Linked DNA regions of Homo sapiens: region 2 is linked to region 1. The links come from fine-mapping of genetic effects on gene expression. A gene starts in region 1. The other region holds a variant in brackets. All regions are shown on one strand. Distances are between the middles of the regions. Region 1 holds the start of CDHR2 (cadherin related family member 2). Region 2 overlaps GPRIN1 (G protein regulated inducer of neurite outgrowth 1).

Evidence for each region. PIP is the estimated chance that this variant, and not a neighbour inherited with it, causes the effect.
Region 2: its variant is fine-mapped to the expression of CDHR2 in anterior cingulate cortex (GTEx, PIP 0.95).

What each region holds. Positions count from the first base shown.
Region 1 is chr5:176,544,555-176,555,721 of GRCh38, reverse strand. It overlaps CDHR2 (cadherin related family member 2), which reads right to left and starts at 6,380. Exons shown (of 32, transcript NM_017675.6): 1 at 6,308-6,380. It also overlaps the pseudogene RN7SL684P. RefSeq lists enhancers at 2,893-3,526, 5,175-6,108.
Region 2 is chr5:176,600,593-176,609,792 of GRCh38, reverse strand. All of the region lies in intron 1 of GPRIN1 (G protein regulated inducer of neurite outgrowth 1), which reads left to right. Among named protein-coding and RNA genes, the nearest start is that of GPRIN1, 5.0 kb to the left of the region's middle. RefSeq lists a silencer at 1-56. The variant C/G (reference allele first, on the strand shown) is at 6,050.

The DNA.
Region 1 (11,167 bases):
TTGGCCAGGCTGGTCTCGAACTCCTGACCTCAGGTGATCCACCCACCTCGGCCTCCCAAAGTGCTGGGATTACAGGCGTGAGCCATCCACTGCACTTGGCCCATTTCAGAGTTTTAAGCAGGGGAGTGGCAGGCAGTAATTTCCTCTTAAGACCTTTCTGGCTGCTGTGTGTCGCCGGGCTGAACTGGGGGCAGCAGGGCTGGAGGGGAGGCAAGAGCAGGGCTATAGTTTGGAGGCAGAATATTTGGGATTCATAGAATTTCATCTTCACAGCAACTCATTTTGCAGATGAGCAAACAGGCTCTTGCTGGGAGTGTTCCGCTGAGGCCCTCACAGCTGAAAGTGAGTGGGATTCACAGCCACTCTCCGATCCCAAGGCCCTCGCCTCTCCCTGAGGCAGGGAGAAGGAGGCAGGCCTCCCGTGGCCCCAGGGCCCTAGCAAGAGGAGAAAACCCCAGTTCAGATGTGGACCCCAAAGCTTCAAAATGTTTGCCCTGTTGACCTACTCATCCAACTAACATAGAATAAGAAGCTCTTTTTGCAGAAAGTTGTTGACCGTGAGTGATTATTTATAATCATGGGAAGCTGGAAGTGACCGTAACATGAAACACAGGCAATGATGTAGAAAGATGTGGACAAGCCCTGGGTGGGATGTTTGGCAACCGTTAAACATTACAGCAATGAATAGCAAGAGACTCGTGGAGGAAGCACCTCCTGCCTCTCAGAACTTGAGCCGGGCACTACGTAATGCTCACAAAATCCCTTCGAGGCTGGGTGTGGTGGCTCACACCTGTAATCCCAGCACTTTGGGAGGCCAAGGCGGGCAGATCACTTGAGGTCAGGAGTTCAAGACCAGCTTGGCCAACATGGTGAAACCCCGTCTCTACTAAAAATACAATAATTAGCTGGGTGTGGTGGCACGTGCCTGTAATCCTCAGGAGGCTGAGGCCAGAGAATGGTGTGAACCCGGGAGGTGGAGGTTGCAGTGAGCCGAGATCGTGCCACTGCACTCCAGCCTGGGAGACAGAGCGAGACACTGTCTCCAAAACAAAACAAAACAAAAACAAAAACAAAAAACCCTTCTAGATTGGTACCATTCTACCCACTTTACAGATGGGGAAAACAAAGCTCAGAGAGGTGAAGAGCCTGGCTTGAGTTTACAGAGTCAAGGAGCAGCAGAGCTTCGCTGGGCAGTTCACTGCCCTTCTCTAAGCGTTCCCTCCCCTGTGAGAATAATAACCCCACTAAGTGATGAGGGTAGGCAGCGGGGGATGAGTGGGAATAAGAATGTGCCACCTCAGCGCCTGGCACACAATAGGCGCTCAGCAAGTGCAAACCTTCTTCCTTCCGTGGGGTTGTCCTCACCTTATGGCTGCTCCTCCCACTGCAATCACCATGGAAACAGCTTCCTCCCTCCCTGGTGACCATCCACGCTCCCCAGGGTCTGAGACTGCTTGCAGAGGTCAGAGCTAAATGGGCAGGGCCAGGGCTGTGTGTGGAGGAGCCCTGGGGCTGTTTCTCATGCTACCTTCCATGTGACTCTAGCCAGGGGAACCTTGGGAAGTTGCTGTGGAAAATGCTGGCTTGCCAAGAACCCCGGAGATGACAGCTGGGGACAGCCCACATGCTGAACGGCAGGGCTGCACTCAGCCAGACTGATAAATACAGATGTGCCCCACCGCTCAGGGGAATTAGTAAGTTCTCAGTCCTCAGAACCCCCAGCAGTGCTGAGCCACAGTCCTCAGTGAGACAGGGACAGCGATGTGGGTACAGCTACACCCTGGAGAGTGACATCATAGCGCTGGAGTCAAGGGCAGTGAGTGAGGTGGTCATGGAGGCAGGGTCCAATATCAGGATAGGGATCCCTCGGGGGTAGGGGTGGCACTGGTGGTGGTAAGTAGGGACGGACATGCTGATGATGTGTGTGCTGATGAAGGTGGAGACGCAGGTGGCGCTGGTGGAGGTGACAGTTGGGGGAGGGAGATGGTGGTGGTGGCGGGGCTGGCGGTGGAGACGCAGGTGAGCTGGGCATTAGCGGTACTGCTAGACTGCAGGTGTCCATTGTGTAAGGAACAGCCAGGGGCTGGATGCGTCCAGCCCAGGCATCCCTCTGAGGCTGTAACCTGGAACCTACCTCCCTCCTCACTTTTTTCTCTCATGTTCTGTCCTTCAGAAATGAGTCAACTGCCACGGGACAATTAGTCACTAGGTGTGCAGCCAGCAGGTATCAAGATGGATTCATCATCATTACAAAGTTCCCCTGGGTCCAGCCTGCAGGACAGGAGATTCCTGCCCTCAGGGTCCCTCCTCCCAGTCCCAGAGGAAAATGGGAACTGGCAAGGAAGGGCCGTGTACCGAGGCTAGCACTTTGCCCCCATTACCATTTAGTCCTCAGCAAACTGACGTCCAAGAGGGGAAAGGGCGCGGCCCAGCCAGTAATGGGCAGAACCCAAGCCAGGCCTGTGCCTTCTCTCTTTTCTAGGCTCCTGGGTTTTCCTTCTTGAGCTGCCCGATTTTCCCACAGGTCATGCTGAGCCCACAAACATGTGATGTTGAGAGAGAACAGCCCGAACCAGGACCTTCACCCAGTCCCCGAGGCGCCTCCCCCTACAGCCCCTTCCCCATACACGCCACGCTTCTCCCTCATGGAAGTGTCTCCCAACTCCCCCCTCCCCATCTCACAGGGCAGGATGGAGGGCCTCAAGAAGCCTGGGGACCCTCACTCAGAGCAACAGCGATGCCCCTTTGCATTTGTGTGATGCACGCACAGTCTCTCCCCTGCATGTGGGCCCAGCCATCCCCCTGGAAGGAAGAGCTGGATTCATCAATCCCCTTTATGCACACAGACATGAGTGCAGGAGGCCAGGGTTCCTGCCCAGCAGCTCCAAGGCTGTCAGCGGCAGAGTGGGGGTGCCACCCTGTCTGCCTCCCAGGCCAGTGCTCTTTCTTGCCTCATCCCTGCCTCGCCTGCCTCCTGCTCTGCTGGGGTTGGCCCCGGGTTTCTCGCAGTCCTGCCTCCTCATGATCATGATGAGGCTGGCGTTCTACAGTCCAGAGCATCTGCCTCTGGATTCAGTCACTTGGGGAAAAAGCACAGTGTCTGTGTGGGCTGGCGAAGGCGCAATAACGGCCTGCCCCAATGCTAAGCCTTCCCCATGATAGGTCACTCCCAAGCTCAAATCTCCTCCATGGCTCCCACTGGCTGCAGGACACACTGCCTGCCCCTCAGCCTGACAGGCGAGGTCCTTGGAGGTCCTGGGTCTTGCTTTTTCCACACGAGCTGCTCTCTCCCACTCCTGAGGTCCAGTGGTGTTGAATGCTCCTGTTCTCGGTCCACACCCTGCATTGTCCTTCCTCCATTTGCCTAAACCATTCCCTCTGCCCAGAATGTCTTTCTTTGCCTTCTGCCTACATGCAAATCCTCTCCATTCTGTAAGGCCCAGATCAGCTGTGGAGCTGTGTTCAGGCAGTTGGTGGCCCCCACTCTGGGCTCCTCATTTCCTGGTACCCCAGCAAGGGGCAGGAGCAAGGCACAAATGGAAACCGAGTGAATGGAGTTGCCCCTGGGCTGGGACTTGCGGACAGGCACCCGCTTTTCCCTGCTGGGGCAGCCTCAGGCCAACGCATGGGTGTGAAACAAGGTCCCAGTCACTGCACAACCGTACCCCTGGGCTCTTTTCTCTGTTTGCTCCTTTTAAAAATGGGAACTATTAACCGGGCGCGGTGACTCACGCCTGTAATCCCAGCACTTTGGCGGGCCGATTACGGGGTCGGGGTCAGGAGATCGAGACCATCCTGGCTAACATGGTGAAACGCCGTCTCTACTAAAAGTTCCCCAAAAAAAAAAAAAATATTAGCCAGGCGTGGTGGCGGGCGCCTGTAGTCCCAGCTACTTGGAAGGCTGAGGCAGGAGAATGGCGTGAACCCGGGAAGCGGAGCTTGCAGTGAGCCGAGATGCCGCTACTGCACTCCAGCTTGGGTGACAGAGCGAGACTCTGTCTCAAAAAAAAAAAAAAAAAAGAGAACTCTTGGCTAGGTGTGGTGGCAGTCCAGGCCAATACCAATAGTTCTCATTTTTTAAAGGAGCAAACACAGTCCAGCACTTTGGGAGGCTAGAGTGGGAGGATCACTTGAGCCCAGAAGGTTGAGGCTGCAGTGAGCCGAGATCGCGCCACTGCACGCCAGCCTGGGCGACAGAGCAAGACCTTGTCTCAAAAAATAAAAATAAAATAAAGTAATTTAAAATGGGGACTATCTATATTCCAGAAATTACTGCTTCCTTGTTCTCAAGCCCTCCGGCCACTACTGTTGTTTCCCTGCTCTCAAAAAATGCCTGGACCAGCCTGACCAACATGGTGAAACCCTGTCTCTACTAAAAATACAAAAATTAGCCAGGCATGGTGGCGCACACCTGTAATCCCAGCTATTCGGGAGGCTGAGGCAGGAGAATCACTTGAACCAAGGAGGCAGAGGTTGTGGTGAACTGAGATCGCACCACTGCACTGGAGCCTGGGCGACAAGCAAGACTCCATCTCACAAAAAAAAATTAGCCAGACGTGGTGGCGTGCACCTGTAATCCTAGCTAGTCAGGAGGCTGAGGCAGGAGAATCGTTTGAACCAGGGAGGCACAGGTTGCAGTGAGCCGAGATAGCGCCTTGCACTCCAGCCTGGGCAACAGAGTGAGAATCCGTCTCAAAAAGAAAGTGCTTAGGGAAGGACCAAAAAGGACACAGAGAAGAATCAGGGAGACTCTGGCCCCCACGCCATGAGATGTGTAGTCTCCAGGAATCCTCACTGGTCCCACCTGGCCCAGGAGGTGCCAGCTCTTCAGCCTTGGCTGAGAGGAGGCTTCAGCCGCATCTCAGAGCAGTCCACGGTGCCAAGATTTTCTAGAATTTGGAACCACTGGGAGTGAGGATACCCGGACTGCCCAGGACCTCCAGGAGGGTCAGGGTGGGGAGGTGGGTCCTCCTTCAGTGTGGGGAGCCCCCGGGGTGCACTCAGCCACGATGCTACAGAGCTCCCCCAGCACCGCCACCGCTACACGGCCAGCTCGCCATGCACTTTCACTTCTGCTTTTTCATTTACTTCTCACAGCTGTTCCCAAGCAGGAATTATCCTATCCTATTATTCCAAGGAAACCGAGGCTCATAGATGCCCAGAGATGGGTGAGCCAGGGGCAGCAGGTTAGACCCAGGCTGCCTCCAAATCCAGGGGTCCCTGGGCAAGCCTTGGTCTGGGCTCCGTTGATCCAGGAGGCCGTGCCTGCACCCACAGAGCGGACTCCAGCCGAGCCTGGGTGCCCGGAGCAAGGATGTGGGACCTGAGCACGCAGCTCCCCGCCACGGGCCCTCCCAGTGCCTATGGCCCAGGCCACCTGGCCCAGCAGACACATACAGACTCAAACAGCCCTGGGTTCAGATGGCAGCATTTCACATATTTGTTGTGCAACCCCAGGCAAGCCCTCTCCCCTCTCCAGGCCTCAGTTTCCCCTGCTGAGAAGCAGAGTGAGGATAAAAATCAAGGGGTCTACACACGGGCCATGACTTGTTTCCATCTGCCGGACCTCGGTGCTCACTGGGACCCTGCCTTGTGCCTGGTGCCCAACCCAGCACAGGCCTGCCTGAGTGACGCAGCATGGCCCCGACTCTCAGCTGGGTCACCACCTCCTCTACCAGGGCAGAGAGATGTGCAAGGCCCGGACTGGGCAGAGCTGGGGCCAGCCTGGGTCAGTCCCTGCCTGACACTTCCTAGCACTGGCTGAGGTGGCACTGGGCTCGGTCATAGGCCACATGCTCACCTTTGCCTCAGGGCTTTTCAGGCCCTTTCTGGAACTCTTCTCATCCCCATTTGATAAATGAGGAAACGGAGGCCCAGAAGAGTTAAGTAGCCCACCAAGGTCAGGGTGGAGCTGGGATGTGAACCGAGCAGCTGGGGTAAGAGCCCAGGTCAGCTTCCCCGTCCTCAACCCCTGAGCATCCTATGAAGGGGTCAGGCCAGTTACCTCGTTTCCCTGGGGTGCCTGCCTCCCTTCCATCCTCTGAAGAATCATCCCTTGAGGACTTGGATGGGAAGGGGGCCATCAGCCCCCAGGGAAGGAGGTATTATTATCCCATGTTTACCAAAGAAACAGGCCTCACAGCAGGCTGGGACCTGACCCGGCTCTGCCCCATCTAGCGTGTGACTTCCCCTGCCCAGCTTCAGGGGAGACTTTTAAAGACCCCCAAGCTTGCCTTGGCTCTAGGGATCCCCCCAACCCCCACATTTCTCTGGCCCAGAGACCCCCGATGAGCTGGATAGTCCCTACCTGTGTCCCCTTCGCCACGGAGGCGGCAGGCAGGCGCCGGACAGGCGCTGGCACACAGGTGGGCACCCTCTGCGGCCTGCAGCTATGTGGCCAGCAGACTTTGGCACCATCTCCACCTCCACTGAGCAATCATTAACCCTGCCAGAGACCACACCTCCCAGGAGGGGTCGACTCCTAATGAGGCAGAGTACAGCTGGGGGCGCCGGACAGGAGGAAGGGACCAAGGCGCCAGAGCTCCTGGCGCTCCTGGGGCTGGAGGCCCACACCACAGGAGAAGGGGCCTGGCCGACCCTGAGCCCAGAGGACCTGGGAACAAGGCCCAACACTGGGGCAGGCTGGAGGCGGGGACGGTGACAGTCAGAAGGTGATGCCAGAGCCCCCGTCCCCTCCCTGCTACGAGTCTTCAGTGACAGGGGATCTGTGGACAAGTGGGGGATTGAGTCAGGAGAGGGAAGTGGTAAAACAGTGTAACAATCAAACACTGTGTGGCCAGACCAGCCCCTGTGAGGTTCTCGTGGAGGACTGGGGGCTAGCTGAGCCTGGACAACCCACTTTCGAGCCTGTTGACACTGATCTCACCCCGCATTGAGACCCTCAAAAGGCATCTGCCCGTCCCCAGGGGCTTCATCCACTCCCAAGTTGCCTTTTTTTTTTAATTATTTATTTATTTTTGAGTCAGAGTCTTGCTCTGTCACCCAGGCTGGAGTGAAGTGGCACAATCTTGGCTCACTGCAATCTCTGCTTCCTGGGTTCAAGCAATTCTCCTACCTCAGCCTCTCGAGTAACTGGGATTACAGGCGTGGGCCTCCACACCCGGCTAATTTTTTTTGTATTTTTAGTAGAAACAGGGTTTCACCATGTTGGCCAGGCTGGTCTCGAACTCCTAACCTCAGGCGATCCGCCTGCCTCGGCCTTCCAAAATGCTGGGATTACAGGGATGAGCCACGGAGCTCGGCCCCCAGGCTGGCTTTAAGCGCTGCCCGATGTGGTGGCCTCCCGAAGGGGCTCAGCCACAAGTCCTTCTTATCCTCACTTTGGCCCAGCCATCACAGTTGACACAGAAAGGGGACCCTGGGCACAACTTTCTTAAGGCACACCACTGAGTCGTCACCATTGGGTGGCCCTCTTCTTGTGGGCAGAGGACATGTCTAATTCACAATAGATATATAGTCATGCACCATATATCTGTGTTTTGGTCAACAACGAACCACACATATAATAGCGGTCCCATAAGAGTATAATATCATCTTTCATGGCACCCTTTCTGTGTTTACATGCACAAATACTTACCCCTGTGTTACAGTTGCCTGCAGCGTGCGGTACAGTCCCAGGCTGCATAGGTTAGCAGCCCAGGAGCACAGGCGGTGGTATAGAGACTGGGTGTGTAGTAGGTGGTACCGCCTAGGTTTGTGTAAGTCACTGTGTGATGTTCACACAATGACGAAATTGCCTGATGACACATTTCCCAGAAGGTGTCCCCGTTGTTAAGGGTTGTGTTGACTGTATATCAGGCAGTTGCTATAGTCAGGCATTTTAATAGTTTGCTTCCCAACTCTCCAAATGTAAAACATAGTAACAAAATTTATACGCCACCAGCATAAAAAGAAGAAACCCAGATGAAGGGAAGTCAAGTGAGAAAAATAAGGGTAATCTACGCCTGAATTGAGGCCATAAAATACTTGTCTTGAGCTGGGGGCACTGCTGTGCACCTGTAGTCCCAGCTACTTGGGAGGCTGCAGCAGTAGGATGGCTTGAGGCCAGGATTTCTGTGCTGTAGGGCACTATGCTGATGGGGTGTCCACACTAAATTCAGCACTAATATGGTGAACCCCAAGGAGCAGAGGACCACTAGGTTGCCTCAGAAAGGCTGAACCAGCCCAGGTCAGAAACAGAGCAGGTCAAACTTCAGGTGCTGATCAGTAGTGAGACTGTGCCTATGAATAGCTACTGCACTCCAGCCTAGACAACAAGAGCTTCTCTCTCAAAAAATAAACAAATTATATATATATATATATTTGCCTTCAAGTTCTGGGTAATTGTAGAGATGGGTCATGAATCAGGTTCTGAGCTTCCCCCCAGGCAAAGAAAAAAGGGAATTGAGATCCATTGAGTCCAGCATCCATCCATTTTAAAACATTTGCATAGGCTGGTGGCTCGCGCCTGTAATCCCAGCACTTTGGGAGGCTGAGGCGGGTGGATCACCAGGTCAAGAATTCGAGACCAGCCTGGCCAAAATGGTAAAACCCTGTCTCTGCTAAAAATACAAAAAATAGCTGTGCACGGTGGCAGGTGCCTGTAATCTCAGCTACTCAGGAGGCTGAGGCAGGAGATTCACTTGAACCCGGGAGGCAGAGGTTGCAGTGAGCCAAGATTGTCCCACTGCACTCTAGCCTGGGTGACAGAGCAAGACTCCATCTCAAAAAAAAAAAAAAAGACCAAAAAGACCACTTTGCGTATAGCCAGGCTCTGGGAGCTATGATGCAGTTCTGAGTTTTGATACCCAAGAGGCTTTTCCTCTTTTTGAGAAGTGTTTCTGAGGAAAGGATGCTGCAGACACTGGGTAGCGCTCGATGCGACTATTACAATGCAGGGGTTAAGAGACCAGAGACCAGGCTCCTCTGGGGTCAGACTGCTGGGTTCAATTTTTTTTTTTTTTTTTTTTTTTTTTTGAGCACCATGTTGGCCAGGCTGGTTTCAAACTCCTGACCTCAGGTGACCCACCCGTGTCGGCCTCCCAAAGTACTAGGATTACAGGTGTGAGCCGCCCTGCCCAGCCACAATTTTTAATTTCATTTTATTTTTATTATTTTTTTTATCTACTGTATATTCACAATGGGTTCAATTTTGGCAGGGCAAGTTGCATAACCTCTCTAAGACGGTTTCCTTATCTGTAAGTTGCAGGTAATACATGATGCCTACCTGGGCAGGTGATGGTGAGGATGTAATGAAGTCACCCATTTGAAGTCCTGAGCACAATGCCCAACACAATAAGGTCTCAATGAATGTTAGTTTTCGTGGGGGCATGGTGGTGACTATTGCATTACTAATATCACCTCATTTAATCCTGCCAATAACTCCAGGGATGATTTTTTTCCCCATTACAGATGGGAAAATAGACCTTAGACAGATTAGATCACCACCCGAGATTACAGAAAGTGGCAGAACTGAGATATTAGCATATCTGTGCAACAATTCTTGCCCCTGACTTTCCTGCCACAGCCGTCAGATTCCTCTCTGAAGGAAGTAGGCACTAGTCATCGCTGGTGGCTTAACCAGTAAGAAGAGAGGCAGGTGACCCCACCCAAGGCTCCAGGCTCCCCGCTCTGCCTCAGACCATGGGAGTCAGCCTGGTCGCTCTGCTGTGCCCCAAATAGGGCAGACCCCAACCCAAGCCCCTGCCCCCTCTCCCTGCCCTTACGGCTGAGGCCGACAGCTCTGAGTCACTGCTCTGGTTGACAGAGGTGTGTCCTGGCCTGCCCAGACCTTTGGACCCATCACGATGAGGCACGTGTGGCCAGATGGTGCCCTGCCCATCTCGAGGGGCACCATCCACCTGCCACAAGGCAGCCTGGGAAGCACACAGGGATCTGGGCTATGACGATCCAGGTCCAGGTCTAGGTCCAGGGTTGGCTTCACGGAGCAGCAGGCAGCCAGGCAGAGTGGGACTAAGAGCCCAGGATATGGACTCAAGTGACCTGGGTCCTAATCCCCACCACCACTTACCTGCTGGGGGCTTGGGCAAGGTACACCACCTCCCACACTATTGGTGTCCTTGTCCAAAATGGGCCTAATGCAGACTCCACCTCATAGGCCTGTTCTAAGGAGTAATGATGTAATGCATGACAGCACTTAGCACAGAGTAAGTAATGGGGTGATGTGCACGAGGCGACAGTTTAGATACACATCAGGGTTCCTTCACAGCCACTGTCTGAAGTGTGTGCCTTAAAATTTTTTTTAATCAGAAAAACTTCTCGGCCGAGTGCGGTGGCTCACGCCTGTAATCCCAACACTTTTGGGACACTGAGGCAGGCAGATCACTTCAGGCCAGGAGTCCAAGACCAGCCTGGCCAACATGGTGAAACGTAGAACATGGTGAAACCCCATCTCTACTAAAAATACAAAACTTAGCCCAGCGTGGTGGCGTGCACCTGTAGTGCCAGCTGCTCAGGAGGCTGAGGCACAAGAATCGCTTGAACCTGGAGGTGGGGTGGGGGGAGATTGCAGTGAGCCGAGATTGCACCACTACACTCCTGCCTGGGTGACAGAGTGAGACTCTGTCCCCACCCCCCACAAAAAAAGAAAAGGAAAAAAGAAAACTTCTCATTACCTGTCTCTGCTATGTGCACCCACTGCATACTCAGAAATTTATCAAGTTGAAATCAAGCGTTAGCTTGCCCTGAAGTTAGGCAAGTCTCTCCTTCCCTCTGAGCCGCCATTTCTTTACCTGTAATACCTCTGACGCCCACCTAGTGCACAGCCTTAGAGGTGACCCGGAGAGTCTGGGCTGAGAGTGACTCTGGTGTGAATGCATTCAACCCCTCAACTTCCCAATCATCCCCGGAAGTTGCACTTTGCAGGGTACAAAGTCCCTTCGTTGCTCTTACAGACAAGGAACCAGCCCAAGAATATCCCCGTGATGTCACAGACTCACAGCCTCCCACCCTAGAAAGAACTCGGGGCTGGGCGCGGTAGCTCACGCCTGTAATCCCAGCACTTTGGGAGGCCGAGGCGGGCGGATCACCATGTCAGGAGTTCAAGACTAGCCTGGCCAACATGGTGAAACCCCATCTCCACTAAAACACAAAAAATTAGCCGGGCGTTGCGCCATACACCTGTAACCCCAGGTACTCGAGAGGCTGA
Region 2 (9,200 bases), 55 kb before region 1:
GGGGCGGGGCGGGGCGGGGGCGGGTCCCGCAGCCCTGGGCCGAACATCAGAGGGGCCCGGCGGGCCAGGCTGACCTGGCTGTGGGGTCGGCCCCGCGCCCGGCCTTGCCGCCGCCCGCTGGCTTTGTTCGGCATGGCCGCGCGGGAGGGGGTGCTTCCCGCCACTGGGGGGAGGGCGTCCTCCCGCGTTGATTCATCTTCCCCGGAGCGAGCTCAACGCTCCACTGGCTCCACTCGCACTACTGAGCACACTCGCCGTCACACAACCAGTGTGGCACACACTCCGGGGCGCGATCACACAACACCGCGTTCACGCACGGGCGCCTCATTTCCTCGAGTGAGGCCACAGGTCTACCGCACACACACAATGGCTGTTGGTCATTCCATTAGACTCATACACACGGCCACCTGTCACCCAGGGTACTGGGTGGGAGCCTTGCGTACACACCCAGGCACAGCTACGCACTCAAACCAGCCATCGCGGATCACAGCATGGACATCAACTCAACAATACTCCCTGATCACAACACACTCGGGGCCACCCTGCCCTGGCCTGCTCACCCCTGCTCATGGGGTCCCTTGCGTACCCAGATACCCTGGAGTAGACTGCCACCCTTGTGCACACACTCCCTCTTACACACACACTCTGTCTCTTAGCGTGCTGCCCACTCCCACCCACACTGGCCCACGTTTGCACGTCCATGAACGTCCATTCTTGCCCTCCTATGTATGTATGTATGCATGGTCTGAGGGCCGTTTCTGGAAGCAGGTCTGGCTAACACCTTTAGATTCCTTCTCCCCCCACACCCCCGAGCAGGAGACTTCGCTGCTCTGAGGGCACTACGAGAGAAGGGGACGAGGGGCAGCAGACTGAGATTCTCAGACACACTCAGATGCCTGACGAAGTCCCTCAAGCCTTTGTTGGTCTTGTCAGCACAGAAGAGGTATTTGCAGGTGCTTGGCAGTTCTGGCCCTGTTTATGGGTGTAAGGATAGCTCCATGCTGGAAAGAAATCCTAGAGGGAAAGGAATGGCTGGCCAGGTCTCTGTGGCCTGAATGGGCAGCCACAGGGGCTGCTGCTCTCCCTGGGAGCAGGACACAGGCACCTGTGCAACACCCAGATAAGCTCTCCTAGGAGTGAGATACCCACAGGGTCCAAGTAGCCCCCACGAGGCACAAACACACAGGCCATTCTGCACATGCAGGGTGTACATACGCACAACAAGCTCTTCTTGAGCAGAACACAGGAGCCAGGTCCTGGCCCCAGAGTGGCCCAAGCTGGTACATACATCCACAAGCAGTCTGTTCACTCCTTTGCATGCCAGGTGAGCCCGCCTACATACCTAGCAGACATTTCTGCCTTCTGCCTCAGTCAGGCCACACTCAACCTGTTTGTGCCCAAGTGTACAGGCTCATCTGCTCATAGGGTGTGTGCGTTCCCACAGGTGGGGGAATGTATGCAGGGGGAGGGGAGCTCTTGCTTCTTCTACTGCATGCTCCTTGGCACTGTTGCTTGGGAGGAACCTTGGCCTGACCTCAAAAACCAGAAAGGGGGTTTTGAGAACCAAGTGTCAGGCCAGGTGCAGTGGCTCATACCTGTAATCCCAATACTTTGAGAAGCCCAGGCAGGAGGATTGCTTGAGGCCAGGAATTTGAGACAAGCTTGGGCAACATACCAAGACCCCCATCTCTACAAAAATTTAAAGATTAGCTGGGTGTGATGGCGCATGCCTATAGCTACTTAGGAGTCTGATGAGGGAAGATTGCTTGAGCTGAGGAGTTGGAGGCTACAGGGAGGTATGATTGTGTCACTGCACTCTAGCCTGGGTAACAGAGTGAGACCCTGTCTTCAGAAAAAAAAAAAAAAAAAAAAAAAAAAAAAAAAAAAAAGAGCCAAGTGTCAGTGTCCACGATCTTAGAAAGAACTCAGGTTTTGTGCTTGGGCACAACTGGCTTTGAGCTACAGCCTTCCCTCAGTTGTGTGCCCTTGGTCAAGTCTTGACCAAGTTGTGTGCCCCAGTTGTGTGCCCCAGTTGTGTGCCCTTGGTCAAGTCTTCTCCCTCTGACTTCAGTGGCCTCATCTGTGAAATGGGATGATAATGCCCCCCTCATGAGATTGTTGTGGGATCCAGATGATAAAAAGAGACTGAGACCGGGTGCAGTGGCTCATGCCTGTAATCCCAACACTTTGAGAGGCCGAGGTGGGTGGATCACTTGAGGCCAGGAGTTCAAGACCAGCCTAAACAACATGGTGAAACCCTGTCTCTACAAAAAATACAAAAATTAGCCAGGTGTCGTGGCACATGCCTGTAATCCCAGCTACTCGGGAGGCTGAGGCAGGAGAATCACTTGAACCTGGAAGGTGGAGATTGCAGTGAGCCGAGATCATGCCACTGCACTCCGGCCTAGGCAACAAAACAAGACTCGGTCTCAAAAAAAGAAAGACAGTGAGCGTGCTGGGCCCAGGTAATGGAGCTGGGTTCTAGTGGGGTAGTTGCGGGGAGAGAATGTGGGGCCTCAGGCCTGGGCTGCCTCTCAGAGAAGCAGCTCGAGGATCCTCAGGCCTCCCCAAGATCCAGGAAGGGCCCAGCAGAACTGTGAGCAGTAGAGCCTCTGGGAGTGGTCTTGGGGCAGTTCTGAAACCCAGGGCTGGCCTATCTCTTCCAGATGTAACTACATCCCCTCTCCCATTTCACAGATTGGAAAACTGAGACCCACGGAGTAGAAAAACTCACTCAGAGTCATAGAGGATGTCAATGACTAAGCTGGGGCTTGACCCCACATCTTTCTACCTCCCTGACCAGGCTCTCTGTCCCTACCCTGGACTTTATCCCATCTCAGAGGCTGGAAAATACAAGTTGGGGACGGGAAGCCTGGGGACTTTCAGAAGGGGCATGTTATCAGCTGAGCCAAGCTTGCCTCTTAGAACCTGTTTCTTCCTCTGGAAAACAGGACTACAACAGCTGCCTGGCAGGCGGGTGGGATTTGCACATAGTAAGGGCTCGACTTGTACAAGGTCACCTCTGCCTTTCATGGCATTGTGCTCCAGGGTCCACACTCAGGTGGCTACAGGCCAGGAGGGTAACATACATGAAGGGCCGGCTGTGAGAAAAACGACAGTGAGAATTCCATGATTGATGGCAGCAGACAGTCAGCCTCAGTGTCTAGGACACCGTGGGGAAGAGGGGGGATTGTGGCTGATTGGAGAGTACACCCCCATCTAAGGAGGCTGTCCCTTTGGGGCTCCAGCTGAATGTTGCCAGGCAGGAAGCACGCTCAGACTGCCAAATTTTAGTTTTCCAAGAGAAGCTGGAAATCTTACTGTCACATGAAATCTTCTAATGTTTAGAAGTTGATCGGTTAATTCCTTTTTAAAACTGATTTTAAAATGTGTTTAGCTCTGTGGGTCAAACAAGCCTGTCTGAGGGTCAGGTTTTGCTGGTTTGTGTCCCTGCTGCAGACCCTTTCCTCCCCTGCCCCCTCCTGGGAGCACAGCTGGGCTCTGACAGGCTGAGCAGATAAAAACAGGCCTTCCACAGACACAGCCCAGCCCTAAAGTGAGCAGAGTCAGGCACACCCCTCATTTTCTTTAATTCTCACTATAGCCCTGGGGGAGCAGGAGGTGGGTTCTTCAGGGTCCCCAAGGAGGAGAAGGGCGTTGCTTGAAGTCACAGAGCTGATAAGCGGTGGGCTGGCCTGACTTTCTGCCCGGGCTGCACCCAGGGAGAGGAGCTTATTGGCTGGGCTGGTGTGTGAGGACCCCAGGGCTGGGCTTCCAGGGCTGAAATGAGGGGTAGTGAGGGCCCAGAGCACCCTTCCTATATCCTTTGCTGACTCCTTCCAGCTCCAGCTAAACTCCCTGTACACCAGCCAGGCAGCTGTTGAATTCCTGTTTTCCAGAGAAGGAAACAGGCAGGCATGGTAGGCAGATCCTGGCCCTCACTGGAGCCTGGGCCCTTTCTCTCTCTCCCTGTCTCTGTTTTAAAGACAGTTTCTTGTTCTGTTACCCAGGCTGATCATAGCTCACTGCAGCCTCAAACTCCTGGACTCAAGAGATCCTCCTGCCTCAGCCTCTGGAGCAGGCAGGACTATAAGTACATGCCACCACACCTGGCTAATTTCTTTTTTTTTTTTAATTTTAATTTAAAGTTTTTGTAGAGACGGGATCTTGCCGTGTTGCCCATGCTGATCTGGAACTCCTGGCCTCAAGCAGTCATCCCACCTTGACTTCCCAAAGCACTGGGATTACAGCCGCGGAACTCCGCCCCAGGGCCCTTTCCCTTGACCATCTTCCCGGTCACCCTGGCTTATAACGTCCTTTTCCATAGGCCAAGGGCCAGATGGATCAGAGGTTGCAAGCTGGTGACCTAGGGGTCAAAGTTGGCTCATGAAAGTGTTTTGGCCGGGCATGGTGGACCATGCCTGTAATCGCAGCACTTTGGGAGGCCAAGGCAGCCAGTCACTTGAGGCCAGAAGTTCGAGACCACCCTGGCCAACACGGTGAAACTCTGTCTCTAGTAAAAATTTAAAAAATTAGCTGGGCATGGTGATGTGCGCCTGTAGCCCCAGCTACTCGGGTGGCTGAGGTACGAGAATTGCTTGAACCCGGGAGGCAGAGGTTGCAGTGAGCTGAGATTGTACCACTGCACTCCAGCCTGGGTGACAGAGTAAGACTCTGTCTCAAAAAAAAAAAAAAAAAGTGTTTTGTTTAGCCTGTATGATATTTTTTAAATTAGCCAATATTTAAAACATGGATATCCATGCTGGGCGCGGTAGCTCATGTCTGTAATCCCAGCACTTTGGGAGGCCAAGGTAGGCAAATCACCTGAGGTCAGGAGTTCGAGACCAGCCTGACCAACATGGAGAAACCCTGTCCCTACTAAAAATACAAAATTAGCTGGGCATGGTGGCGCATGCCTGTAATCCCAGCTACTTGGGAGGCTGAGGCAGGAGAATCACTTGAACCTGGGAGGCAGAGGTTGCAATGAGCCAAGATAGCACCATTGCACTCCAGCCTGGACAACAAGAGCAAAACTCTGTCTCAATAAATAAATAAATAAAATACAGATATCCAGATTTATGACTTAGCTAAAAAAAAATTTAGGAAACCTGGAGGCACAGCGGCCACATTCACTTCCCTGCTTAAATACTTCCAAGGGGCGGGATACAGTGGCTCACTAGGCGCTAGGTATAATCCTATTGTAGACACGAGATCCTGCTATGTTGCCCATGCTGGTCTGGAACTCTTGGCCTCAAGAGATCAAGGTATAATCCTATTACATTGAGAGGCTGGGGTGGGAGGATCACTTGAGCCCAGGAGGTCAAGGCTGCAGTGAGCCGAGATCGCGCCACTGCACTCCAGCCTGGGCAACAGAGTGAGACATTGTCTCAAATAAAAAGAAAATACTTCCAGGGTTTCCAGTGCCCTTAGGCTAAACCCCCCTCCTCCACCATGCCTCATGTGATTTGCTGCCTCCTCTTCCGCTGCCACCCCCTTTCCGACTCCACTCCAGCTCTTCATGGCTGGCTCAGATGGTAACTGCCTCAGAGGGGCCTTTCTTGACCACATGTCTAAACCAGCTGCCCACTCCTTTGTCTTCACAGCATCCATTATTTGAAATACTATGATTTATTTGCCACTTGTTTATTTCTCTCCTCCCAATCTTTCTGCATCTATAAGGCAGGGACCCCACATTTCTTATTCACTGCTGTATCCCCAGTCCCAAGAATAATGCCTAGAACATTGCCTGTGTGCTCAGTAAATGCTGAGTTAATGGAATGATTCCTAATTGGCCACAGCTGGCAGGAATTGAGTGCCGTTGCCCCTTTAGAAGGGGCCAGTGCCCTCTAGTTTGCCACAGTCCCCACCACTCCCTCTTGTCTCCCTCAGTCTGGGGATGTCAGGAGTCTTTCATCATCTCCCTTGTAGGAGAAAACAAATATTTGTGCCCATATCACTATCAAAAGGCCAAAGATGAAGATGGACTCAATTCACGCCACTCAAATCTGATGCCTGCCTGACCCCTGCAGGCTGGTGACCATCCAGTGAT[C/G]CCACGAATTCCAACCAGACCTCTCCCGTGCTTCTGGCCTGCTTCCTACTGCCTCCTGGATGTCACCCCCCATAAGTCCCATGGGCACTCCAGTTCCACTTCCGAAACCCAGTGCCCCATGATCCTCTGCAAAACTGTTCCTCTTCCTGTGTTCCCTCTTAGTGATGGTCCCCCTCCCCCACCTCATAAGCCAGAGCCTGAGGGACCCAGTAGTGAACAGTATCGACTGTGTCCCCATCCAGAGACCTGAGGTCTGGCCAGGGACCCAGAGGTGTAAATGGCCAGATGCAGAGTGACATGAGCCTTGTTAGAGGAGGAACGAGAGGCTACAGGAATCCCCAGGAAGCTGGTAGCCAAACAAGGCCCACTAGAGGAGGAGGTGTTTTAACGGAGATCTGAAGGTGTAATAAGAGACAGCCAGGCAAGAAGGGAGGGAGAGATTCCTCCAGAAGAGGGTGTGTAGAGGCTGAGATGGTGGGGGAGAGAGAGAGTGTGTATCTGTGTGTGTACATGTTTTGGGGGTGGGAGTGGGTAATGAAAGATAAATCCCAGCACTTAAGTAGAAACATAGGGGCTTAGGAGCATATTAAAGAGCTGGACTTTACCCCAAAGGTAAGAGTGAGTCATTAAAGGTTTCTCTTTATTGTCCATTGGAAAAAAAAAGGACTATGTGCGCACATAACCACAATTTAAACATCACAAAGGGGCGCACAAAGAAAAGCTTCTCCCACCCTCAGATCCCCGCTCTTCCTTCTGAGAGGCAGTCACTGCTAAAAGTTTTATAGGATTCCATCCAGAAATTCTCTTTATAAATAAACCCATCCATGTGTGTCCTTTTCCTTGGCTACACGCGTGGGATCCCAGTAGCGATGCTGTCCCCTGGCCTTTTTCAATTAATTTATCTTGGGTGCTTTCCCTCATTACCCCACACCTTCTAGTAGCTGCCCGGTGCTCTGCGTGGTTGTCCCACAGTTCACAGAACCTGCCTCCCCGTCTTGTTCTCATCACTAGCCATGCCCTTGTGTACCCCAGGACCATCTTCAGGACCCCAGGTCTATCTTTAGGACCATGCTTAGAGGTGGGCTTGGTGGCTCAAATGCTATGCGCGTTGTAAACTTTGATAGAAATTGATAAATGTCCTTCTAAAAAGATTACAACTAATTTACATTTCCGGCAAGAATGAGGAGGGTTTTGAGCCAAGGAGGGCACAGGTGGCTCTGCATCTTAGGTCATTCAGTCATTCATGGAACAAATCCGTATGAGGATCTTCCTTGCTTACTGCATGTGTGCCAGGTCTCAACTCTGGGATATATCAGATAGCACAGCAAAGTCCCCACCTCCTGGAGCTGGCATTTTAATGAGAGCAACACACCACAAGCAATAAGCGAATATATGTGATATGTCAGATGGTGACAGGTACTATGGAGGAAAACTGATTAGAATAAGAGGGTGGAGAATGCCAGCCAGAGCTGGGGAGGAGGCTGTTTTACATTGCATGGGTCAGGGAAAGCCTTGGGGAGCCGACCATGCAGATATTTGGAGAGAAATCTCTCCATGCAGAAGAAGCAGGCAGCGCCAAGGCATGGAGGCAGGCGTGTTCAAGGCACAGCAAGGCGCACAGCGAGGCACCCCGCGTGGCTGAAGCAGCGTGAGGGAGAGGGAGAGCAGCAGCAGAAAGGGCAGAGGAGGTGACGGGGCCTGAAGATGCAGGGGCTTCTGAGCCATTCTAAGGAGTTTACTTTTACTTTGCATGGGATGGGGAGACACTGCCTGGTTCCGAGCAGAGGGGTACATGATTTGTCTCGGGTTTTACTAAGATCCCTCTGGCTGCTGTGTTGAGAATAAGCTATGGGACAAAGGAAAAGGCAGGGATAATCCAGGTGAGAGATGGTGGGGGGTCCAGATGGCAGTAGCCAGATGCTGGATATATTCTGATGGTAACTCCATTATGTTTTGCTGATAGACGTGGGGTGTGAAAGTCAAGGGTGATTAGGGATTTGGGCCTGAGCATTAAAGCCATGGTTTTGGAGCAGGTTTGAGGGGATCAGGAGCTCTATTTGCTTTGGCTACTGAGTGTGTAACGGAACGGGGTTGCTTGTAGGCCCAGCTGCCTGCTGGACCCTCTTCTTGGATATCCCCCAGGCACTACAAACTCAGCTTGTCCAAAAACGGATCTCCCTCTTTCCTACATCTCCTGCTCAGCACCATCACCCAGCAGCCCTCACCCTAGCCAGTACCCTGCAGACCGCCCCTGCCATTACCAGTACAGCCTGTTGGTACCTGTCAGTTTTCCTTTGGATTTCTCAATTCTGCCTTTAACTACCATCTCCAGGACCTCTGCTGTGCTGTCTCTCATCGAGATTCCTGCAACTGCTCAGGGCCTGTTGCAGAGAAGGGGCTAGGTGAATGAATGAAGGATTAAATGGATGAAAGATTAAATGAATGATTTACCAGCTTCCTCACAGGTCTTGGCCAACCCCTGTGCTCCTTCAGCCCAGCCTCCATACCATCCCAGAGGAATCTTTGAAAACACACACATCTGACTATGTCCCTTCCTTGACTATAAACCATTCACAGCTCTCCAGGGCCTACATAGACATAAACTGGTGGCCTACAGGCAAGTCTTGTTTGGCCCACATAATGTTTGGGTTTTTTTTTTTTAAACCTTTAATTAATTAGCATATTTTACATTAAAGTCTGGATTTCCCACTTAAGCAACTGGAAGAACTGGGACCACCAGGTTGCATTTCTCCAGGATAGCACTTGGCTGATGGGAGTAGTGGTTCTCCCTTTATTATTTTTATTAATTTTTGTTTTTGTTTATTTTTGAGATGGAGTCTTGCTCTGTTGCCCAGGCTGGAGTGCAGTGGCACGATCTTGGCTCACTGCAACCTCTGCCTCTCAGGTTCAAGCAATTCTCCTGCCTCGGCCTCCTGAGTAGCTGGGATTACAGGCGTGCACCACCACACCTGGCTAATTTTTTTGTATATTTAGTAGAGAGGGGGTTACACCATGTTGGCCAGGGGGGTCTTGAACTCCTGACCTCTAGTGATCCGTCAGCCTCAGCCTCCCAAAGTGCTGGGATTACAGGCGTGAGCCGCCGCACCCGGCCATCCCTTTAGACAGAGCATGTGCTCTCTAATTTGCCATA